7 linked regions of the Homo sapiens genome follow. The protein of the gene in region 6 interacts with the protein of the main gene of each other region in a biochemical or structural test. Each region holds a gene or a part of one and is shown on either strand. Other genes may lie near its edges. The genes, in order: JAM2, KCNT1, ABCA2, CLDN3, PARD3B, RAPGEF6 and RPS6KA3.

Evidence for each region.
Region 1: the proteins of RAPGEF6 (region 6) and JAM2 interact in a test that uses a peptide from one of them, tested with the Homo sapiens proteins (one large-scale study listed by IntAct).
Region 2: the proteins of RAPGEF6 (region 6) and KCNT1 interact in a test that uses a peptide from one of them, tested with the Homo sapiens proteins (one large-scale study listed by IntAct).
Region 3: the proteins of RAPGEF6 (region 6) and ABCA2 interact in a test that uses a peptide from one of them, tested with the Homo sapiens proteins (one large-scale study listed by IntAct).
Region 4: the proteins of RAPGEF6 (region 6) and CLDN3 interact in a test that uses a peptide from one of them, tested with the Homo sapiens proteins (one large-scale study listed by IntAct).
Region 5: the proteins of RAPGEF6 (region 6) and PARD3B interact in a test that uses a peptide from one of them, tested with the Homo sapiens proteins (one large-scale study listed by IntAct).
Region 7: the proteins of RAPGEF6 (region 6) and RPS6KA3 interact in a test that uses a peptide from one of them, tested with the Homo sapiens proteins (one large-scale study listed by IntAct).

What each region holds. Positions count from the first base shown.
Region 1 is NC_000021.9:25,645,758-25,649,257, reverse strand, and holds part of JAM2 (junctional adhesion molecule B isoform 1 precursor), read right to left. Parts: exon of another isoform or gene 2,126-3,500; intron 1-2,125. UniProt on the Homo sapiens protein: Junctional adhesion protein that mediates heterotypic cell-cell interactions with its cognate receptor JAM3 to regulate different cellular processes. Plays a role in homing and mobilization of hematopoietic stem and progenitor cells within the bone marrow.
Region 2 is NC_000009.12:135,782,185-135,785,684, forward strand, and holds part of KCNT1 (potassium channel subfamily T member 1), read left to right. Parts: intron 1-1,839; coding exon 1,840-1,941; intron 1,942-2,350; coding exon 2,351-2,434; intron 2,435-2,576; coding exon 2,577-2,705; intron 2,706-3,125; coding exon 3,126-3,146; intron 3,147-3,500. UniProt on the Homo sapiens protein: Sodium-activated K(+) channel. Acts as an important mediator of neuronal membrane excitability. Contributes to the delayed outward currents. Regulates neuronal bursting in sensory neurons. Contributes to synaptic development and plasticity.
Region 3 is NC_000009.12:137,008,986-137,011,237, forward strand, and holds part of ABCA2 (ATP-binding cassette sub-family A member 2), read right to left. Parts: coding exon 2,201-2,252; intron 2,121-2,200; coding exon 1,988-2,120; intron 1,753-1,987; coding exon 1,635-1,752; intron 1,387-1,634; coding exon 1,208-1,386; intron 1,140-1,207; coding exon 998-1,139; intron 919-997; coding exon 784-918; intron 660-783; coding exon 556-659; intron 478-555; coding exon 385-477; intron 69-384; coding exon 1-68. UniProt on the Homo sapiens protein: Probable lipid transporter that modulates cholesterol sequestration in the late endosome/lysosome by regulating the intracellular sphingolipid metabolism, in turn participates in cholesterol homeostasis.
Region 4 is NC_000007.14:73,768,497-73,771,404, forward strand, and holds CLDN3 (claudin-3), read right to left. Parts: upstream 1,775-2,908; 5' UTR 1,554-1,774; coding exon 891-1,553; 3' UTR 501-890; downstream 1-500. UniProt on the Homo sapiens protein: Barrier-forming claudin. Plays a major role in tight junction-specific obliteration of the intercellular space, through calcium-independent cell-adhesion activity.
Region 5 is NC_000002.12:204,544,169-204,548,274, reverse strand, and holds the start of PARD3B (partitioning defective 3 homolog B), read right to left. Parts: upstream 2,801-4,106; 5' UTR 2,276-2,800; coding exon 2,156-2,275; intron 1-2,155. UniProt on the Homo sapiens protein: Putative adapter protein involved in asymmetrical cell division and cell polarization processes. May play a role in the formation of epithelial tight junctions.
Region 6 is NC_000005.10:131,457,230-131,460,729, forward strand, and holds part of RAPGEF6 (rap guanine nucleotide exchange factor 6), read right to left. Parts: intron 1-3,500. UniProt on the Homo sapiens protein: Guanine nucleotide exchange factor (GEF) for Rap1A, Rap2A and M-Ras GTPases. Does not interact with cAMP.
Region 7 is NC_000023.11:20,165,910-20,169,409, forward strand, and holds part of RPS6KA3 (ribosomal protein S6 kinase alpha-3), read right to left. Parts: coding exon 3,493-3,500; intron 1,839-3,492; coding exon 1,680-1,838; intron 1-1,679. UniProt on the Homo sapiens protein: Serine/threonine-protein kinase that acts downstream of ERK (MAPK1/ERK2 and MAPK3/ERK1) signaling and mediates mitogenic and stress-induced activation of the transcription factors CREB1, ETV1/ER81 and NR4A1/NUR77, regulates translation through RPS6 and EIF4B phosphorylation, and mediates cellular proliferation, survival, and differentiation by modulating mTOR signaling and repressing pro-apoptotic function of BAD and DAPK1.

The sequences.
Region 1 (3,500 bases), on a different chromosome or scaffold from region 6:
CCAGTCTTGGGCAGTCCTTTACAGCAGCGTGAGAACACACTAATACGTGCTTTGTTCTAGTCTAGATTAAGCAACTTTTGAGGGGTGTATTGTTTGACTCATCTGAGTTTTTAATCAATGCTTACTAATTCAAGAGGAACTTATGTGCTTTTAGGATATAAGGAGGCATCAGGAAATCTGGAAAATTTCTTAAAATCCTATAAGGCAGACCAGTCTTTATATTTCCTTATATCTTAGGGAGGCCACTGTTAAAAAGAGGAGGAGGGAGTTTTAGGAGCAGTAATATTATGCATTCATTTGAGACTATTAATTTTACATATGTCTTGAGGTTTTTATTGCTAAAAAGTTATATAATTTTATGAAGCTACAAAACAAATAAACATTAAATTCCAGCTTATGTAATTCTACTTAATCAAGTATTAAATGTGCCAGGCAGTACTCTAGGTACCAACGACCTAAAGATGTGTTGTCTCTGCCTCCAGCAAGCTCACAATACAGAGAGATATACATGGAAAAATTGTAACAGTACAGCTCAGTAAGTGCCATAAGAGAATAAAGAATATACCAAAAGCACCAGAGTATAATATACAGTAGACATCAGCTTTGAGGAATTGATGAGTTGGAAAGAATTAAGAGAAGGCGCAAGGAATTTTGGAGTTAGACCTTCAGGGAGAAATTGCATTTGGCCATATGAGGAACAATAGCAACAACAACAGAGATGAATGGAGGTTGGGAAGAAGTACTGTATCTAGATAAAATGGCATAGATGTTCACTCGTTTACACACACACACACACACACACACACAAACACACGGCACAAAAGAACCTGACTTGTTCTGGATCCAAAAGCACTATATGGACAGTACAATAATCTCATGTCTCCAATATGCTTAGGTACAATTTTAATGTTTTATGACATAGATGGCTGCATGTTTCAGTTATTGGACAAATGCATACTTGAGTTATTGTTTATTCCATTGTGTCAGTTCTGCTTCTGATCAAAATCCATTCCTATTTGAAAATGCATCTAGTGAATTTTTTTTTTTGAGACAGAATCTTGCTGTGTTGCCCAGGCTGGAGTGCAGTGGCACAATCTCAGCTCATTGCAACCTCCGCCTCCCACGTTCAAGTGATTCTCATGCCTCAGCCTCCTGAGTAGCTGGGACTACAGGTGCATGCCACCATGCCCAGCTACTTTTTGTACTTTTAGTAGATACAGGGTTTCACCACGTTGGCTAGGCTGGTTTCAAACTCCTGACCTCAGGTGATCCACCCGTCTTGGCCTCCCAAAGTGCTGGGATTACAGGCGTGAGTCACAGCGCCCAGCCCTCTAGTGCATTTTTTAAAAAACATAAACACCATTCTCTCTTTTCAAATTTAGCACTTGCCCAGAAGTTTGACATGTTCCCTTTTTATTTGTGGTCATTATTTCCTCTTTGGTCTCCTTTAAAAATAGCACCCCTTTGCACTTGTCTGTGAATCTTAGCTGGTGCTAGTGTCTCTGTCCTCTCTGGGTGCACACACGTTCTCCTTTGGACTTTTTAACTGGATCTTGCTTGGAATTTTTCCCTTTCCATATTTGGTTACTGGTTTGGAAGTTTATTTCCCTTTGTTTTACTAATCATTTTGTTCCATTATTTTTGGTGGTTCTAGTTAGAAAATAGCTCCCACTGCATTTTGGTGCAACAATTTTAAAGGCCTCTATAAGATGTTATCTTCTGTCCTGCTTGTAGACTGAGCTTTAGGTTGTACCTTAATTACTAACATAAATAACTTTTTGGAGCAAGGTGCACAACACTATATATAATATGATTTGATTTTCTGGAAGGTATACAGCAGTAAGCATAATAAATTGTGATCTTTATTTCTAAAGAAATTATAAGAGTATGCTTATATATACTGGAACTATTTCTTTTCTAATTTCCTGAAACCATTTGCAGGAAACTTAAGGATGGTCTATCTGAGAAGCAAAGGAGTCAGGAAGGCTGGAAAGGAGACTTATTTCTTGTTTTGTAAACTTACTGCTCTGTTTGAATTTACCCTAAGCATATATTATTTTTAGTTAGACATATAAGAAAATGTGTTTAACAATTCATTCATTTTTATCTTTGGTTTTGTCCATAGTATGTATTTAGGAAGTTTCACAATGTGAAGAAAGCGAAGAGTAAAAACAGCAGGTGACTGCATTGACAAAATGAAAGCAAGCAAATTGGACAAACCTAGCATAAAGAAGACAGACCAGGTTATGCATTTTTACTCCTTACAAATATAAAGACAAGCCCGTCCTAAATTATCCCAGTAGAAAATTTTGACAACTACAACAAAACAGAAAACCCAACAAAACAAATAAAAATTTGATGCTGATGACATGCGATAAAGAAAAGCAGAGCTCTCCAGTAAAAACCAAAATTCCTGTCTGTTAAGTTTACAAGGATTCTTCCTTAGGACTTTCTGAGCCAAGACAATGGACAGCTAAGAGGGCAGCTCTTGAAATACTTTCACAGGATTTGCTTCTCTGCTCATAAAATGTAGGAACAATTCAAACTGGAGAGCATTTCCTACCCATTCACTGGCCTGAAGATTCATAGAGTAGGGTTTTGTGTTGCTGTCAGCAGGCATTTATCTGAGCACACATCCATCCATCCTCCCTCTCTCTCTCTCTCTCCTTCTCTCTCTCTCTCTTTCCCCCCACACCCGATGCATGCATACACTCACACACTTTGGAACTTAGAAGGCCACTCTTCTGAATATCAAATCAAGTAAAATGACCATTCTAAGGGTGACAACTCAGGGAAACTCTGGAAACACTGGAAACAAATACTGAAAATAAACTTACGTGTGGGAGAGAGAATAACATTGAAAGAAGGTATACATAGTAACCAAAAGAGCTACTGTTTCATGTTTATAGGTTGGGAACTGAACAGAAAGTTGAAAACACAGCACACATGATTAAAAAATTTTTTCCTTAAAAACCAAAGAGCCATTTTTCTTAAATTCCTGATCAGATTTAATTAACTACATTTCAAATGCAGTCATGCACTGCATAATGACATTTTGGTCAACAATGAACCATATCAGTGGTCCCACAGATTATAATGGAGCTGAAAAATTCTTATCATCTAGTGATGCTATAACGCCCGTACTGCTGTAACACAAGAACTTTATTGTTTTATAAATTTAGTGTAGCCTAAGTGTACAGTGTTGATAAAGTCTACAGTAGTATACAGTAATGTCCCAGGCCTTCACATTCACTCACCACTCACTCACTGACTCACTCAGAGCAACTTCTAGTCCTGCAAGCTCCACTCATGATATGTTTCTACACAGGTGTACCATTTATCTTTTGTGCTGTTTTTACTGTACCTTTTCCATGTTTAGATATGTTTAGGTACACAAATACTTACAACTGTTTACCGTTGCCTACAGTATCCAGTACAGTAACATGCTGTATAGGTTTGTAGCCTAGGAGCAATAGGCTACACCATATAGCCTTGGTGTG
Region 2 (3,500 bases), on a different chromosome or scaffold from region 6:
CAGAGCGAGACCCTGTCTCAAAAAAAACCAAGCAAAAAAATGAAACTATTATTAAGGATGCTGCTGGTGGGGTGACATGCATCTCCCCTTGAGGGCTGGCTCCAGAAGGCTCTCAGAGCCCCGGTGTGTGAGAGGAGTCTCTCCCCTGAGGCCCACCTCCCCTGCCGTCCACCTCCCCTGGTCTCCAGCACCCAGGACTCCTCCACCACTTCATTGCTTTCACATGGTCAGCCTGTGTGATCTCTCCTCCTCACCAGGAGCCTTCCTTCAGGCTGGCTCTGCCCATCCTGGGGCTGCACGGTGCCTGTCCTGCTCCCTCTGACCGGGGGTCTCGTGCTCAGGAAGGGCTCATCCGCTCCTGTGTGCTCCTGTCTTCACTGTCACTTGTGAATGGCACCCGCTCAGCCCCTGCTGAAGCCCTCCTGTCCAGAAAGCAGGAGGAAATCTCTGGAAGGTCCTGAAACGTCCAGCTTTTTCTTTCCTTCCACGTCTCTCTCTGGCCCTGTCGTGGTTCTTGTTTCCTGTTTAGCGTTGTTCTGAGTAAAGGAAAATTAAAATTGCAAGTTGTTCTGGAATTTCACGTTCGTCTCCGCGAAGTACGGCTGGAATTCTGGATGCAAATCACCACGATTGCAAACTCACACGCCCATCGCAGCTCATCGCACCTGGTTCTTGCCCCAAGAGCGGAAACGCCGCACGAAACTAATTCCACTGTTTCTCACGCCCCAGCCTTCCCACCGGCCACTGATGAGTAAGGGCGAACCCGGAGGAAAAGGGGCTTCTGCCTGCTTGTCCTGTCGCTGTCGTGTCTTTTACCTGTGAATCGAGTTCTGGTTCCGGGGGGAAGTGTGGCCTCCGTGGGCGCACACGCCTGCCTGTGCACACTTGCTTGGAGGCCGAGCTCCAGGGTTGGGGCCCTCCGCTGAAGAATGACCCGAGAGTTGGCCACGGCCGGGTCCGGAGCCCGTGGATGTACCGCCTCACGTGACAGAAGGGCCTCTGCAGATGGGATTAAGTCACGGGCCTCGAGATGGGAGATCCTCCTGGAGCATCCGGCAGGTTCACGCCGTCAGGGTCCTTCTAGGGAGAGGCCAGAGGTCCCCATCCGGTGGGAAGAAGCTGCACGGCCAGCTCAGAAGAGGGAAGAGGGAGCCACAAGCCAAGGCAGGTGGCCTCCAGGAGCTGGAAAAGGCAAGAGAAGGAGGCCCCCAGGCCTCCAGAGGGAGCGGGGCCCTGCCCAGGCCTGGATCCAGCCTGAGACACCTCAAACTCCCGACTCCAGAAACGGGAGAGAGGAGACAGGTGTCGTTTTAGCTGCTAAGTTTGCGGTCATTTGTTACGGGAGCCCCAGGAAACTCAGTGGGTCCATTGCAAGCCTGGAGCACAGGGACGGGGAGGCCAAGGACAGCAGGGAGCCCGATGCTTGCTCCTCCTCAGCCCAGACTCCACACGCCCTCCGGCACCACTTACAAAACACCGGGGGAGGAGAGGATTATCAGGAGGATTTGGAATTTCGGGATGGCAAGAGCAGGGCGCTTGACCAAGCGCAGTGCCCATGGCAGCCGCCGGGAGTCCACCTTCTCATCAGAGCCCCACATCACTCCTCCCGGGCTCTGGCCCTGAGTGTGTCTGGGAAGATAGAGCTGGTTCAGGCCTGCCGGTGTATGCACACATGCAGACACACACTGTGTACACGTGGACACACACACCATGCACAAATGTGCACACAGGTATCATGCACACATGTACGGTGCACACACAGTGCCCTCGACCCCGTGGCTGCCGTGCCACTGGAGGGACCTCGGCACCAGCCCATCTGAGGCCCCTCCTTTCCCACAGAGGGAGCGAGAGAATGGCTCCAACCTGGCCTTCATGTTCCGCCTGCCGTTCGCCGCCGGCCGCGTCTTCAGCATCAGCATGTTGGACACACTGCTCTACCAGGTCAGCGGGGAAGCGGCAGCAGGAGGGTGGCGCCTGGGTGGGACCCCCGTCATGCCCTCAGCTCTTCAGCCTGGTCCCTGTTCTGAATGATAGGACTCCCTCTGAATGACCTTCCCTGGATTCCAAGGAGACCTCTGGGCCCTGTCCTTGCCCCAGGGATTTCTGGGCCCTTTTTGACCTATGGGTGCCTGGCAAGGGAGTTTTCTTAGAAAAGGCCTCCCAGAACTCTGCCTGTGGGTCATGTGGTGCTTGGGGACCTGGTGGTTCTGTGTGTGTGTATGCATGAGGGGTGGCGAGCCCGTGGCCGGTGGGGTATGGACCTGTGTCCCACGCCCGTGCCCGCGTGCCTCACTGTGGCTCCCTCCCTCCCTCCCTCCCTCCCTCCCTCCCTCCCTCCCTCCCTGGCCAGTCCTTCGTGAAGGACTACATGATCACCATCACCCGGCTGCTGCTGGGCCTGGACACCACGCCGGGCTCGGGGTACCTCTGTGCCGTAAGTGCCCCTGGCTGCGCTGGGCTGGGGGCGTGCTGGGCTGTCCAAGTGGGTGGATGGGCACCTGCCCCTGATTCACGGTGGCCAGGAGGCTCTGGGTGCTGCCACCTGCCCCAGCCAACTCAGGGTTCCCACCCTGCAGATGAAAATCACCGAGGGCGACCTGTGGATCCGCACGTACGGCCGCCTCTTCCAGAAGCTCTGCTCCTCCAGCGCCGAGATCCCCATTGGCATCTACCGGACAGAGAGCCACGTCTTCTCCACCTCGGAGGTTCTGGGGCAGCCTGGGGGCTGGGACTGTGGCAGCCCCTGTCCTGTGTGACCCACAGCATCCCCACCTTCCGGGGGCTGGGACTGTGGCAGCCCCTGTCCTGTGTGACCCACAGCATCCCCACCTTCAGTGTCAGGGACCTGGGCTAGATCAGCTTTGCTATTGCTGGCAGCTCCTTCCGTCTGGTCCGTGTGCCCACGTGTAGCGCTTCCAGCTGGAGCAGCCATGACCCCTACCGGGGGCAGAGAGGCTCAGGGGAGTCTTCAGGAAGAATACGGGCAGCCCCTGTGCTGCAGTCCACACAGCAGCAGGCACCGTGCCCACCAGCCCTAAGCATGTTCCGTGCAGACCCCAGGCTGAGGCGGCGTGGGGGGCAGGGGTGCGCCCACAGGTCCCAGACTGCGCCTGTTTCCTTTGCAGCCCCACGACCTCAGAGCCCAGGTAAGCAACCCCTCCGTGCCCACGCAGCTTCTGCGGAGCACCAGAACATCGCAGCTTCACATGGAGAAGCCTGCCAGGCCCCACCCACCCACCCACCCACAGGGCCCTGGGAAAGCCGAGGCAGGAGCGGGTCCCACGGATGTGTCGGCCCCAGCACGGCTCAGAGAAGGCTGTTGACACTCACTCCCTCCTGCACTGGTGGTGGGGAAGCTGAGGCCTGGGGGGAGTAGCCTGTGAGTTTGGACACCAGGTGCACCCCCGCCCCCTCCCAGGCCCCACCAAGGCAGGCAGCCCCCATGCCCATCTGGCCTGACCAGCCCCCAGCCTCCCAGGCCTTTCTGAAGGTGCCACCCA
Region 3 (2,252 bases), on a different chromosome or scaffold from region 6:
ACCGCACCACGTCCTTCACACTCTGGCTGCTCTTGGTCCGCACCGTGATCATGTAGCCATCTCCAAACCTGGTGGGACAGGCCGGTGGCCCGGAGCCCTGCGCCGCCCAGCCAGAGCCCCAGCCCCCCAGCCTCCCAGCCCTACAGCCCCCACAGGCACCCCAGGAAGCCCCATAGCCTCCCACAGCCCCCCAACCCCACAGCCCCCACAGCCCTCCAGGCTCCTCCCCTGGCCCCACTGCCCCAGTCCCCCCAGCCCCAGTGCCCCCAGCCCCCCTGGCCCCACAGCCCTCACAGCCCTGCAGCCACCCCCACTCCTGGCCCCGCTGCCTGGCCGCCCCCCCCGGGCCCGCCCCAGCCCACCCCTGGCCCTGCCCCGGCTCACCGGTTCTTCAGGTGCTGGATGCTGCCCAGGCACCGCAGGCGACCGTTCACCATGATGGCCAGCCGCGTGCACAGCGCCTCGCACTCCTCCATGCTGTGGGACATGCACAGGCTGGCACCGGAAGGGGTGCTGTGGGGTGGGGGCACAAAGAGGGGGTGGGGGCGCCCTCACCTGTGTGATGTCAGCACCACTGAACGCCCTGTCTTGATGAGGTCAAGGATGAGGTTCCAGAGGAAGCGCCGGGCCTTGGGGTCCATGCCTGTGGTGGGCTCGTCCTGGGGATGGGTGGCAGGCTCAGCTGCTGCCAGGCCCACACACCCCAGCCTGAACGCTGCCCCTGCCCGTGCTCACCAGGAAGTCAAAGGCCAGGCAGCCACCCCCCACCCACCCAGGACTTACCAGGAAGATGAAGGCTGGGTACCCAATGAGGGCGATGGCCGTGGAGAGCTTCCGCTTGTTGCCGCCGCTGTAGGTGCCAGCCGGCTTGTCTGCGTACTTGGTCAGCTCCAGCTTCTCCAGAGCCCACTTCACCACCTGGCCAGGGAACGCAGGTGTCAGTGGAGGCAGGGCCACCCAGCGTGCTGACTCCCTGCCCCGCCCCACAGATCCTCACCCGGGCCTCGTCCTTCCAGGAGATCCCACGCAGCCGCGTGTACAGCTGCAGGTGCTCCCGGGCCGTGAGCTCGTCGAACAGCGCGTCACACTGCGGGCAGTAGCCGAGGCTCTGCTGCACCTGGAGCAGCTCCTTCAGCACGCTGGGGACACGGCAGCTGTCAGCGCGTGAGGACGCGGCGGCCCCGCCCACCCAGGGCTCCCGCCCCACCTGTGTCCATTGACGAAGGCCTCGCCCCCCGTCGTGCTCTCGTCGCCGGTCAGCATCTTGAAGGTGCTGGTCTTGCCCGCACCGTTGACGCCCAGGAGCCCGAAGCACTCGCCAGGACGCACACCCAGGCACAGGCGGTCAACGGCCAGGATACGGCCAATCTTCCGGGACTTGTAGACCTGGCCAGGAGCCTGCCCACTCAGCGGGGCATCCTGCCCCCACCCTGCCCCTCTGGCCCCACCCCACCCAGACCCTGCCCCACCTCCAGAGCCCAGGGGGCCACGTGCCCCACAGCCCCACCCCATGCAGGCCCCACCCCCAGAGCTCAGGGCCCTGCCCACCCAGGCTCCACCTCCACTGCTGGGGCCCCACCCCCCTGGCCCTGGCCTACCCCACCCAGGCCCCACCCTACATGCCCAGAGCCCACCTTGGTCAGGTTCTCAATCTTGACCATGTCATTGTCGGCGTCTCCCCGGAGCACTCGCTGCCGCTCACTGGCCACGTCCACATCATCCTCCACAGGCTTGGTAGACACAGGCATGCGCCTTGGGGGACAGGGTGGACAGTGTCCAGCAGCTCGCCACCCCCACTGCCCCTCCCTGCCACCAGCCTCGCATCCTCTGGCTGTGGCATGTAAGAAGGGTGGGCAGGCCCCTCTGCTGTCCCCTGCCTCACCCCCTCCTGCCCCATCCCTGCCCCCACCCCCGCCCCTACCCTGCCCCACCCCCGAACCCATCCCTGCTCCCGCCCCGCCCCCGCCCCACCCCGCCCCCCACTCACTGTGGCCGCCGCAGGAAGTTGTACTGGCACATGATGGTCAGGAGGAAGCCCACGACGCCCTCAACCGCCATGGCCACCAGTCCGCGGGTGACAATGTCCCACTCGAACGGGGACTTCATCTTGTCAAACTGGCCTGCGGGGAGACAGCTCAGGGCCTGTGCTCTGGGCCTTGCGGGGCCCCCACCGCCTTCCCCGCCCCACGGGCCCCCTCACCAATCTTGGCGTAGTACTCGTTGATGTACTCGTTGTAGGCCATCTCCATGAG
Region 4 (2,908 bases), on a different chromosome or scaffold from region 6:
GGGTCCCAGGAAGGAGATGGGGACCCTTTCTCATCTCTCCCCCAGGTGAGAAGATTTGGCCCGGTTTTACTTTTGGTGGCGTGTTTTATCCAAACAATAGGTCTTTTTGTTTTCGTTTTTCCAATAGGAAATGGCAGTACGGAATGCGCTCTTTCACAAGGCGCACGGGAGATTCCGAATGTGTCGGGTATTGTGCGGGGTCCGGGCTCCCAGCACAGACCCAGGGGCACATCTCTGCCACCTTCCCCTCCCATCCCCAGCCATGGCGTGCGGAAAGTGCTCATGCCTGCTTCCTAGATTGGGCGCTGGCTTTGGCCTCACAGGCTGTCTTCCGAATCCCCAGGGAGTGGGCAAGTGACCACCCCGCCATCACCAAGCTCAGCTTACAACCCCATCTTCCCTCTAAGCTCCATCCGGGAGAGCGAGATCCAGCCAAGGCCGCCCCGAGGGGGAGCTCTGCAGGGAGGTGGAGGCGCTGGGAACAAGGAGGCTCCAGCGAGTGCAAAACGAAAGGCTTTTATTGAAAAATATCAAGTGCCCCTTCCAGGGCTGCCGGTCCCTGCCCAGCGCGAGCATGGGGGCAGCGGCCCGATGGGGCTCGACGGGGTGGTCAAGTATTGGCGGTCACCCAGGCCCCGTGCTCCAGAAGGGTGAGGTTTCACAGTCCATGCAGGTTGGTCCCTGGGCCCCGAAGTCGACTGCCCGGCCCGCAAAGCCGTGGCTGCTGGGGAAGCTGCCCCAGTCCAGCGCGGGGGCTTCCTGGCTTCTGGGGGTGGGCTGGCCTCCGAGGCAAGGCTGCACGCTGGATGGCCTGGTGCGCGCTCCAGCTCGCGGTGGTGGTGGTGGTGTTGGTGGTGGTGGTGGTGGTGGGGTCTCCCTGCGTCTGTCCCTTAGACGTAGTCCTTGCGGTCGTAGCCTGTGCCCAGGCTGGCTCCCGGGCCGGTGGAGCGCGGCGCGGAGTAGACGACCTTGGTGGCCGTGTACTTCTTCTCGCGTGGGGGACACGAGCAGCAGAGCAGCGCGCCCCCCAGCAGCTGCAGCGCCGCGGCCGCCCAGCCCACGTACAGGCCCGCGCCCATCTCGCGCTTCTGCGCCTCGGGCACCACGGGGTTGTAGAAGTCCCGGATAATGGTGTTGGCCGACCAGGACACCGGCACGAGGGTGAGCAGGGCGGCGAGAAGGAACAGCACGCCTGCCACGATGGTGATCTTGGCCTTGGCCGTGTCGTCCTGCACGCAGTTGGTGCACTGGGCGCCCACCAGCGCCACTAGCAGCCCGAAGGCGGCCAGCAGGATGGCCACCACGATGAGGGCGCGGGCCGCCTGAAGGTCCTGTGGCAGTGCCAGCAGCGAGTCGTACACCTTGCACTGCATCTGGCCGGTGCTCTGCACCACGCAGTTCATCCACAGGCCCTCCCAGATGTTCTGCGACGTGATGATGTTGCTGCCGATGAAGGCCGACACGCGCCACATGGGCAACGCGCAGCACACGATGGTGCCCAGCCAGCCCAGCACGGCCAGCGCGGTGCCCGTGATCTCCAGGCCCATGGACATGGCTGCCGCGGCAAGGCCCGCTCCACCGGGTGGCTCCGGGTGCGGGGAGACGAGGGGCCGGGGCCGCTGGGCCTGGCGGGAGCTGCGGCGCCCCGACGGACGGACGGACGGACGGACTGACTCACCGACGGCGCGCGCTAACGGCTCGGCTCCATACGCTCTCGCCGCGGCTGCGCCTGCACCTGCCTGTGGCTTTGTGGGCGGGCGGCGGCGACTGGGCTGGCCCTGGGCTGGGGCCGGTGCGTCTTAGCTAAGTGCCCAGCGCTCCGGTGGGGGCGGTAGGGGCGGAGCCGCGCTCTCCAGGGCCTAAGGACAGTGACGTGGCCCCTGCCTCCCACCTTCACCGAGCGTCCTGGGAGGAAGGACTTGGCCCTGCGCGGCCCACAACGCCGGGGTAGGGGGGTTGCCAAGGAAGGGCGGGACCTGACCCAGCCCCCGCCCCTCGGTCCTTGTCCCTCTCTGCTCGGGAATGAATTCTCCGGGGCAAAACCGAGGACGGGATGCGTCAGGGGCTTGGGGTGCAAATCCCAAAGAATTTGACACGGCTTCTCTCTCCTCACCACTTTGGGCGCTTTTGGCACGTGCCGCGTGGGGATGGGGGCGCTGCCAATTACCCCGGAACGGCGGGGCGGGGAGGACCAGGGTGGGCGTGGCCGCGGCTGTTTGCAGGAGCCGCGCACCTGCTGCTCTGCCCCTCCCGTACACACGTCGCACAGGCTCAGCCTGAGTCCGGGCGGTGGGGTTGTCCAGCCCAGGAATTGCTGGGCCCAGAAGCCAGGGACTGCCTGCGCAAAGGTACCCAAAAGATGCCCTTAAGCCTAACTAAGCTCAAATTCCTCTCCAGCTCTCCCTCCAGTTCCCATCGCTGGCCGTGAGCCTGCATGCCTTTAGCTAAGCTGCTCTCCCCTCCCAGAAGTCCCCCTCCTCCCATTGAGTCCCCTCCCCTCTCCGAGCCCTGTCCTCCCTCCCTTTGAGCCTGAGTCAGGGCTGAGGCCCACCTTAATGAAATGGTGGTGAAAGAGGTTCGATCTCCGCAAAAGTGGGAAATCGGGCAGGACCGAGCACCGTGGTGGCTGACTCCTGTAATCCTCGCACTTTGGGAGGCTGAGAAGGGAGGATTGCTTGAGACCAGGAGTTCGACACCAGCCTGGGCAAAATAGTGAGACCCCGTCTCTACAAAAAATTAAAAAACTAGCCAGGTGTGGTGGCGTGTGCCTATAGTCCCAACTACTCCGGAGGCTCAGGCAGGAAATTACTTGAGCCCAGGAGTTCGAGGCTGCAGTGAGCTATGATCGCACCACTGCACTCCAGCCTGGGCATCAGAGCAGACCCTGTTTAAAAAAAAAAAAAAAAAA
Region 5 (4,106 bases), on a different chromosome or scaffold from region 6:
TTACTACACATTGTTTTTCAAATTGAATTTTGACATTTCTGGCCTTTTCTCATTTAAAAAAAATGAATAAAAGCATGGAATTTGTTAGGGTATTTATTGACCTTTTAGTGCCATTATGAATACGATTTAATATTCGTTAAATCTTGTTATGATTACAATATTATTTAAAATAAAACTATGGGAGAAGAATACTTGGGGAGGGGAAAAATCATCACCTACTACTTCTTAAAATGAAATTTTAAAAGTGAAAATAAGAGGAAGGATTTATATGCTGCAGGTGACCTTTAAATGTCACATTCACTAATATATAAATGTAAACAGAAAAATATAAGTCTGGTAATAATAGTAAACTGATCAATGCAACTACATTGTTCTGTGATATTATAAGTTACGTTTCCATTCCAGAATGTCAATATTTTAACACCTTTTAAGATCAAATTATAGTGAATTAAATATCAGCTGGTTAGTTCTCTTCATGTTATTTACAAGCTTGTAGTTTATCTCTTACTTGGATAGCCCCCTGTACTAAACTTCTAAATATACAAGATTTGAGGGCATAAATTATTTAATAGTTAAAAAGTAACTTCAATTTGGTAAGACAATCCCTCAATGAGATCTATTTCAATAATCTGTCTGGAGTAATGTTGTTACTATTAATCTTAGCTCACTTTCAAAAGTTAGTGAAATATGATTTAATAGACAATTGGTTACTTGTTTAAACATCAGTTAACTGAATTACATGATTTAAACAGCAAACACTATTTTAACAATGGCAAACACATATGCACGTGCACACACACACATAACATTGCAGTTGATTTTCACACAGCTTTATAAACCACTTTAATTTTTTCCCTCCTCCACCTCAATTCCATCAGTAAAGAGTTCATCTTTAGGGGTTATATTTAATATATTAATAGACCTTTCATTGTACTCTCCTCCAGTTCTTGAGTATCCAAAGCAATATGCACATGTATCTGTCCAGAGCTGAATTTTTTTTCTGTATAATAATTCTTCATGGAGGCAAAGAAGGTGCAAGTATTTTCTTAAACCCCTAAGCTATACACTTGTAAGAAACAATTACTTTTATGCTTTGGATAACCGATAAGAAGTTAAAAGAAATTAAAACTTACGTTTTTCCATCACTAGATTGACCAACCCACTATTTTAGTCACATGGCACGAGACCAAATATTAAGAGAACCATTGGCCGCTAAAACAAGAATTTGTGACTTGCCCTGTTTGAGGAGCATTTGGGACATACAAAATGTTCCATGTGAAGATTCAAAAAATTAAAAGGTTATTCAATGCCTTCCTTTAAAAGTTTCACTGAGGAAGTCCCAGAGGCCCAATGTTACCCAAATACTTGGCATAAGTTCTAGTGCCAGATATTTTCTCAACATGTATTGCACACTTAAAAAAAATTGTCACTTAATTTATACTTGTTCCTGACTTCAGCTACAGAGCTAGGAACGTCTTTCTCATTTTAATAGTCACTCAGGACCTGACAACAGCCCACACACATAGTAAATGGTCATAGAATCTGTGACATTAAACTGAAAACACTCAAAATGTAGACAGGTTGGCTAAGCAAACAGCATGCTCCCACCTGTGTTCCTGCCCAAGTCACTGAGACAGGGCAGCTCACAAGGCTGAAACTCCAAAGGCCCCATCAGTTGTAACTTCCGAGTATGTGTCACTTGCACAATCAACTTTCTAACTCCAAGGAGCCTAAGTGAGGCGGGCCTTAATGGGTCAAAAATCACACTTAGGTGAGCAGCACCTTTTAAGACGTTCCCTCAAACAAGTTCTAAACCAGTGGTTCTCAAACTTCAGTGGGCATTCCAATCACCTGGGGATCTCGTTAAAGAGCAGATCCTGAGTCGGTGGGTTTGGAGAACTGCCCATATTGGGCAGTTCTAAGAAGCTCCCAAGAGATTCCAATGCTGCAGGTCCACTCACGACCCTCGGAGCTCAAGGCCCACAAACACCCAAAGACACCCACATCACTGATATTAGCAATAGACAACAGCTGCAGCTACAGGCAGTGCCCCATAATCCCCTGGGTTTTCTGCATCCCCTGAGTGTCGCCACCGGGTCGCACCTGGCAGGTGCCTTGGCTGCAGCCGCGCCCCACTCCTCCGCGCCGCGCTCACCTTCTCCCGGGTCTTCAGGTACCGCTGCAGCGCCTGCTGGGTGAGCTCGCCGACGCGCAGCTGGCCCTCCTTGCAGGGCACCACGATGCCCGTCCTGCCGAAGCACACGGTCACTTTCATCCTGGCCCCCGGCGACCACGCCGGGCCGGGCCGAACAGGTGTCTGACCCCGCGGGCGCAGCCCCCACTCTCGGAGGACGCCCGGGGCGGGTGGGCCCAGAGACCCGGGGCGCCGCTCCCCGGAACACCCTGAGGCCCGGAGGCTCGCGGCAGCGCCCCTTCCACCTGGCCAGGCGGCAGGTGGCGGGAATCGGGGAGGGGCGGCCGCGGAAAGGGGTTACCTCCCAGGTGCCCGGCGGCCCGGGACGCGGCAGCTCCGCGGCACCGGCTCCTCCTCCTCCTCCTCCCGCTCCTACTCCTGCCCGGCCCAGGCGGCTGCTCCGCGCCCACCAAAGCGAAACTGCCGGCCCTGCCCTGTCGCTGGTCCTGGCCCTGGCCCTGGCCCTGGCGGCGTTGGCAGGGCCGGCCCCAAGCCGGGGGCTGGAGTGGGCGGCGGCGGCGGCGGCGCACGGGGCCAGAGTTGGGAGGAAACTTTTGCGCCGGCTCCCAACTCCTCTGCGGCGCCCGCGCTCTGGGCTCCTGCGGTCCCGGCGACGGCCTGGGCCCGGCTCTTAAAGGGGCCGCGGCGCTCCCGGGCCCCGCCGCACGCTGGGCGACGACGTGCCCCGGCCCTGCGGGCCAGTAACTGGAGCCCGGGAGCCTCGTCTCGTCACCTGGGTCTCTCCCTGGCTCTCTCCCTCTCGCACGCATGCACACGGAGCTCTGGGGAGTTGTAAGGGGACCTGAGGGCTACACGCTCGAGGATTGAAACCGGATCTCAGAAAGAACACCCGAGGGAAGAGCGAGGAGACTGCAGAGCTGCGCCCTTCACAGGAGGGGACTGCAGCAAGATGCAAAAGGAGCCCAGGAGCAGGTGCTTCTAGTCACGCCCACCAAAAACACCCAAGGGGCGAGGCTGCCGGGTGCGGAGATGCAGGAGTGCCCCGAGGGCCTGTTAGGAACTCGCCTTAAGCACAGCCCGTGCCGCTGCCATCAGGAGCCCTGGGATAGCAGAGCTGAAGCGAACCTTGGAGAGAACGCGCCAGTGGAAACTTTTCCTTTTACAGACCCTCGAGGACACTGAGTATTTGGCCAAAGGTCACACCCAAGACCCAGATATGATCGCGTGTGTTGACACATAGCCTTCTGGAATGCGACTACCGTTGTGCATTTTATTAGGAAAAAAAAAAGTTAACACCCTTAGGCTCATGATTTGGCAGGTGTGTATCCATCACCAATTGAAATGGGAATATGTGGGGGAAACCAACAAATTACGTTAGTTTCATTCTTAGCTCTCATGTAAATGAGCTCCTTTGAGCTTAACAACTACCCGGTAGGTAGATATTATTCTTCGCATCTTGTGCATCAAGAATGGTGCTCGGAGAGGTCAAGAGACTGAGCAGACCATGGTGTTAGTTCTGTTGAAAAGAACTCAGGTCTTCTGAGCTCAATCTCTGGTCTCTCCCTGCAGTTTTCTTAGCCATCCAGTTCATCCAGCAAGACCCTCAGGGCTGCATCATGTGTTTCTCTACAGAAGGATGTGCTCCTATGTGGACACACTTAAATTGAACGTGAATTGCCTAGGATGGTATGATAATGCAGAGGAGATTAAATTCATGGGTTTCAAGAGGTTTTTTAAAAAAATAAATTTTAGCTCATTCATACATTCAGTAAGTATATATTGGTTGTCTTCTATGTATAGAAAGTCAGTGGCAAACCAAGAGGATCACGTAAACCAAGTCCATTGTAATTTGGTTGTAAATCCAATACAAACTAATTTACATTTAAATAAACCAAAGACAGAATTGATCACCTCATAAAATCAGAAGATCCAGAGGGCACTCCATTGAGGC
Region 6 (3,500 bases):
CTGGCTAATTTTTATATTTTTAGTACAGACAGGGTTTCACCATGTTGGCCAGGCTGGTCTTGAATTCCTGAGCTCAAGTAATCTGCCTGCCTTGGCTTCCCAAAGTGCTGAGATTACAGGCATGAGCCACCATGCCAAGCCAACAATCCTTTATTTGGCATAGCACACAGTGATACACTTTGGTACAAATCTGTTTGAGACAGGAGAGAAGGGAGACACTCTGAGTTGTAAGCAGCCCTAATGCTGCCACAATCTCCATTTACTAAGAAAAAGTAAAGGATAAAACAATTCACATACAAGGCTAACTCCTGCTACCGTGGAATACTGCTGCATGGATCCACTTATATGCAGATTTTTTTCAATAAATTCAGTCACCCCTCCGTATCTGAGTGTTCCACATTCACAACCAAATGTGGATCAAAAATACAGTTTCCTTGGATGTGAAACCTGCTAATGCTGACTTTATGTATCCACAAGTTCCTCAGGGTCAACTGCAGGACTTGAGTATGTGAGGATTTTGCTATCTGTGAGGAGCCATGGAACGAATGCCCCACAGATACTGAGGGACAATGGTATCATTTAATATGAAGCACCAGCAGATGAAAATAGACAAAATAGAGAAATAGTTATTAATAAATGGAATGAGAGATGTAAAGTTATCATCAGTTGAAGAAAATTAGATTGTTTAACTCAAAACTCCCAAAATATTAACTGAAAATTATTAGAAGCATGAAGAATGCAGTAAGGTACTAGGTACAACACTGATATTCATATGCATTAGAATACTTAGGCAGAAACCATTAGAAAACTTAAGGATCCCATTCATAATATAAGGATCCCATTCACAACAGCAATAAAAGATATTAAACATTCAAACAAATGTTCAAGATTTACATGAACACCACTATAAAAACTGATATGGTTTGGTTCTGTGTCCCCACCCAAATTTCACGTGGAATTGTAATCCCCACATGTCAGGGGAAGGACGCAGTGGGAGGTGACTGGGTCATGGAGGCAGATTTCCCCTACGCTGTTCTCATGATAATCAGTGAGTTCTCAAGAGATCTGATGGTTTAAAAGTGTGGCACTTCCCCCCTCACTCTCTCTCTCTCTGCTGCCATGTAAGACACGCCATGTTTGCCCTTCGCCTTCCACTATGATAGTAAGTTTCCTAAGGCCTCCCCAGACATGGGGAACTGTGAGTTAATTAAACCTCTTTTCTTTATAAATTACACAGTCTCAGGTATTTCTATACAGCAGTGTGAAAACAGACTAATAAAACAACTCCACAGAGGAAATAAAAGAAAACTGAAACAAGTGGAATAAGTGTTCTTGGATGGCAAGAGCCATTGTTACAAAGCTATCAAATGTCCACTAAAGTAATCTAGGTATTTAATGTAATCTCAATGAAAACATCAACAGAACTTTTTCTTTTCTTTTTTGAGACAGAGTCTTGCTCTGTCACCCAGGCTGGAGTGCAGTGGCATGATCTTGGCTTACTGCAACCTCCACCTCCTGGGTTCAAGTGATTCTCCTGCCTCAGCCTCCTGAGTAGCTGGGATTACAAGCATGTGCCACCATACCTGGCTAATTTTTTTGTATTTTTAGTAGAGATGGGGTTTCACCATGTTGGTCAGGCTGGTCTAGAACTCCTGAACTTGTGATCCACCTGCATTGGCCTCCAAAGTGCCAGGATCACAGGCGTGAGCCACCGCGCCCAGACATCAACAAAACTTTTTAAAAGAACTACATAAATTGATTCTAAAGTTGATATGAAACAAATAAACATGCCAGAAATAGCCAAAGAAAAGTATGAAGAGAGTCATAAGGGGTTTGACTAGCCCTATCAGACCTTAAAACCTATTTTACCACTTCAGCAACTAAAACAGTAAATGAATAGACAAATCAATGAAGCAATGAGTGCAGACATAAACCCAAATATGTGTTAGATTTCAGTACATAATAGATGGCATTGCATATTTTAGAAAAAAAGATTGATTAATGATGTTGGGTGAAGAAGTCATTTGGAACAAAGAAAGATATATTTCTTTATCTCACTGTTTACATAAAAATGAATTCAAGATTAATAAAAAATGTTGTCTAGGGTGTTCTAAGAGCTCTCATTGTATTAGCTCATTGAATACTCTTAACCTTATTAGGTAGGAACTACCAGGATTTCCCATTTGACAAATGAGGAAACTTAGTTCACATAGACAACAAGTGCCAACACTGGATTCAAACCTAGGCAATTCTTTGTTCTTAACTAACCACAAAATGCAGAAACTCCAGCAGGAAAAAAAATAATACATCTACATAAAAATAAAAAAATTTCTACATGGCAAAAGTAAACACCACACACTGTTTTAAATAGCCAAAGTCTGGAAATTTAGAAATATCCATAATGTGCACTCCACAATACAAAGGAGTACTTCATAGTTGTTTAAAAAATATGAGACAACTTTATAAGAACTGATTTTAAATAATCTCCAAGATAAATTAAAAAAATTAGCCAAGGTGGTTTTAAATATATATTTATATGCTTGCTATATGGATAGAGTATTTCTTGAATGAAAAAAGGTAACAGTATCTCTGGGGAGAGGAATTTGGGTGGATTAGGGACTGGGTGAGACAAAGTTACTTTCGCTGTGTACTCTTTATCTTTAAAATTTTTTCCATGTACATGTCATGTCTATTCAAAAAGTTAAAATTATTTTATAATTATAAAAAGTTGTTAATTATAGCCAGAACAGAATGATTCACCTTTGCCATCTCTGCTGAAAAGAGTATATTCTTTGATCTACCTGAACATGAAGTACAAGAATACAAAACAATTATCTTAAAAAGAATACAAAAGAAACAAAGCAATGATCTTTACATGAGCTATGAAAATGTGCAGAACAAATATTCTTTGTAACAAAACAAATCTTTTAACCAAACAAAGCCTCTTAACCAAATCTCAGCCCTTTCCTATCCACTCCCTTCTTTGGGCTACTGTCCATCACATCTTCTCTCAAATCACTCTCTTTCATTGGCTTTGATGACACTATCATAACTGTGCTACTCTGTTTCTTGTACTGATCCTCCATCTCTTTGGCTAGACTCTTTTTCCTTACCCTCACACTGAGTCATCATACTAAGGTATGGTTTTTAGACCTCTACCACTTTCTTTCTACCCTCTTTTTTATACAGAGATCTATTCTCTCAGTGTCAATCAATTTTCTTCATAGTGGACTCTAAAACTGAGCCCGTAATTTTCAAATTCTTTACTTGATGCTTCCTTTACAAACAGGTTCCATTTCTAGCCTTCCAAGTGTTTATCAGTGGCATCTTTATTCCTCTGTTTTAGACTTAGCTGTTTAAAAACTGTGATATAGGTGGTATTTTACAGATAAGAAAACCTATCTTCAGTTTTCCACTGACACATTGCTACTATATGGGAGAGGCAGGATTCAAATACAGGTGCAGCTGATTCTAAAGACCACTCTGTTAATCTCTATTCA
Region 7 (3,500 bases), on a different chromosome or scaffold from region 6:
GATAATACCGAAGTCTCTCTATATTTTTTCCTAGATATATATACCTATGATATAGTTTAATTTATAAATTAGGCACAGTAAGAGATTAACAATGACTAATAATAAATTAGAACACTTGTAACAATATACTGTAATAAAAGTTATATGAATGTGGTCTCTCAAAATACTGTAATATTTTTGACAATGGTTGACTGTGGTAACTGAAACCACAGAAAGCAAACTTGCAGATTAGTGGGGGACTACTGTACTTTTTTATCATAAGCTTCTCTGACATTCCTTTTTAGACTTAAGTGTGCCTTCTGTCACCAAATTCTGAGTCTGTGTTCCAATCAATCAAATTAGATTTAGTTCCTCACATCCAGGACATCACTTCTCCAGACTATTTTAATAACGAATTACTGATGAGGCATTGGGAAAAGAACACAGAAGACTTTGATGACTGCAAGGTCATAAGTTCCTCAGTGACTACTGAGTTCTACTAATTTCAAGTTACAATACTAGGCAAATCTTGATAAGTTAGAAGTCAGGAAGCTCCAGAATTAACACATTCTACTTGGCTTTCAGGGGCAAAGACAAAACAAAAAGAATGTATTGAAACTGAACTCCTTAAGAAGTAATCTTTTATATATGCATGTATCAAAACATCATGTTGTATACCATGAATATACATAATTTGTCAACTAAAAAATTTTTAAAAAATTGTTTATTTTCCCCTTGCTTTCTGCTCCTCTGCTTCACTCCTCTGCTGTTCTCCTTTCCTCCCTCCCTCCCCTCATTTTCTCCTTTCCTCCCAGACTTCCCTTCTTTTTTTTTTTTTTTTTTTTTTGAGATGGAGTCTCACTCTGTTGCCCAGGCTGGAGTGCAGTGGTGCAATTTCAACTCACTGCAACCTCCGCCTCTCGGGTTCAAGCAATTCTCCTGCCTCAGCCTTCTGAGTAGCTGGGATTACAGGCATGAGCCATGACGCCCGGCTAATTTTTGTACTTTTAACAGAGACAGGGTTTCGCCATGTTGGCCAGGCTGGTCTCAAACTCCTGACCTCAGGTGATCCACCCACCTTGGCCTCCCAAAGTGCTGGGATTACAGGCGTGAGTCACTGCACCCGGCCGCCTTGTTTTAAAAATACGATTTTCTCGAACTCCTGACCTCAAGTGATCTGCCTGCCTCGGCCTCCCAAAATGCTGGGATTACAGGCATAAGCTACCGTGCCCAGCCTAGAAATACAATTTTCTTTTGCTGTTTACTAAAAATCTGCATACAAGAAGAACGAAGAGCATATCCACCAGCCGAAGCATGTGACTCCTTGGCCTCATTGTTTTAAGGATTTCCTTTTATACATGAATACAAACCAGGATTCCTTGGTTCTGCTTCTAACCTGAAGTGGGCCTGGTTTTCATGAGTACAGAGTGACCTAGCAGAAACAATGCTATGTTTTCCAGGTCGGAAGAGATCACTTACTTTTTCTTGGAAGCACAAGAGTTTAACATAAACAAGCTAGGATATCAAAGGTACACTTCAATCTCAATAATAAAAGTTTATATAGAGGAAGGTCAGTAGGATAATTCAGCTAATAGCAGTTATTTTCCATTTCAGGCATAAAGTAATTTCTATCTAATTCTAGCTCAAACATAAAGGAAAAAAGTGTGTGTATGTACATATAGAGTGGTAAAAAGACTTACCCCTTGTGCGTGAAGATATTCAACGGTTTTAGTTATAGTGAACAGGACAGCACTGGCCTCTCGTTCAGAGAAAAATTTTTGTCTAAGAATTTTATCCAGCAATTCACCTCCTTTCATAAGTTCTGTTACTACATACACATACTTTCCATCATCATATACCTATAAATTTCAACATCAAAATGTAAATATTATTTGAAACTATATGTGCCCAAAACGAAGTTTAAAATATAAAGGAAAAATTAAACTCACTTCATATTCAAGACAAATTTTATTTATTTATTTATTTTGAGACAGACTCTGTCGCCCAGGAGTGCACTGGCACAATCTTGGCTCACTGCAATATCCACTTCCTGGGCTCCAGCGATCCTCCCACTTCAGCCTCTCAAGTAGCTGGGACTATAGGCGCATGCCACCACACCTGGCTAATTTTTGCATTTTTTGTAGAGACGAGCTTTTGCTGTGTCTCCATGAGCAGGGATAATCTGAGGAAATTTGAGTTTTGACAACCCCCAGATAAGGCCTTTGGGCCTATTGAGCATCATTAGCAAGAGAAGACTTAACACTACCTGGGGAGTTCACACTGTTTGCCAACACTTTGTTATAATAAAAGTCAAGAGAGACATAGGCAACAGGGTTATCATGACAGTCCAGGGAAAGATACTTTACTTGTCCTGGGGGTGGCAATGGGCAGGGCAGGCTTCCTGGAAGAAGCAGTGCCTTAGCAAAATCTTATATGTGTGGTAGTTAGCCAGGTAAAGAAAATAGATGGTGTTGGCAACTGAGGGAACTATAAATTCAGACATAACAGCATGGAAAATGAGGCATGCGCAAGAAATTTACATACTAGAACACAGAGCATCAGGTGTATGAGAAAGGGTGTGTGAGAAGTCTGAAAACTACAGAGGAAGGCAGGGTCTTAAGCGGCTGGGGACTTTAGACTGTAGGCAGGGAAGTTAAATGGGTAGTTATGAGTGTTAGATCTCTTTTCTAGTAATGTGGAAGATACTTTGGGGTAGTCTGGAGAGTGAGACTAGTCAATATTGAATATGAACTAATAGTAATATTAACACTGAACATTTAGGTAAGTGTTCAAGTAAGTGCAGATATTAAAAGCAATAATATCGTAAGTACTTTTCTTCTTAAAGCAAAAGTAGAAAAAAATAACTGTACAAACATATCTTTATTGATAAATGAAATTATGCCATATACACATATAAATTGTTTTCAAATCTACTTTTTAAACTTACCATGTTGAATTTTGTTTTGTTTTGTTTTTGTTTTTGAGACAGGGTCTTGCTCTGCTGCGCTGGCTGGAGTGCAGTGGTGCGATAACTGCTCACTGAGGTCTTGACCTGCCGGGCTGAAGCAATCCTCCCACCTCAGCCTCCAGAGTAGCTGCGACTATAGGCATGAGCCACCATGTCAGGCTAATTTTTAAATATTCTTTAGAGACAGGGTCTCCCTATGTTGCCCAGGCTGGTCTTGAACTCCTGGGCTCAAGCAATCCTCCTGCCTCAGCCTCCCAAAGTACTGGGATTACAGGTGTGAGCCACTGTGCTCGGCCTGGCTAATTAAAAAAAAATTTTTTTTTGTAGAGATGGAGATCTCACTGTGTTGACCTGGCTGGTCTTGAACTCCTGGCCTCAAGTGATCCTCCTGCCTTGGCCTCCCAAACTGCTGGGATTACAGGCGTGGGCCACTGTGCCCAGCCTATGATGAGTTCTTTGTCTACCACATGATTTTTGAAAATACACTACTTTCAATGTGAGTTAGACAACTGATTCAAATGATCCATATTAAAGAATCTACTTACATCCTTTA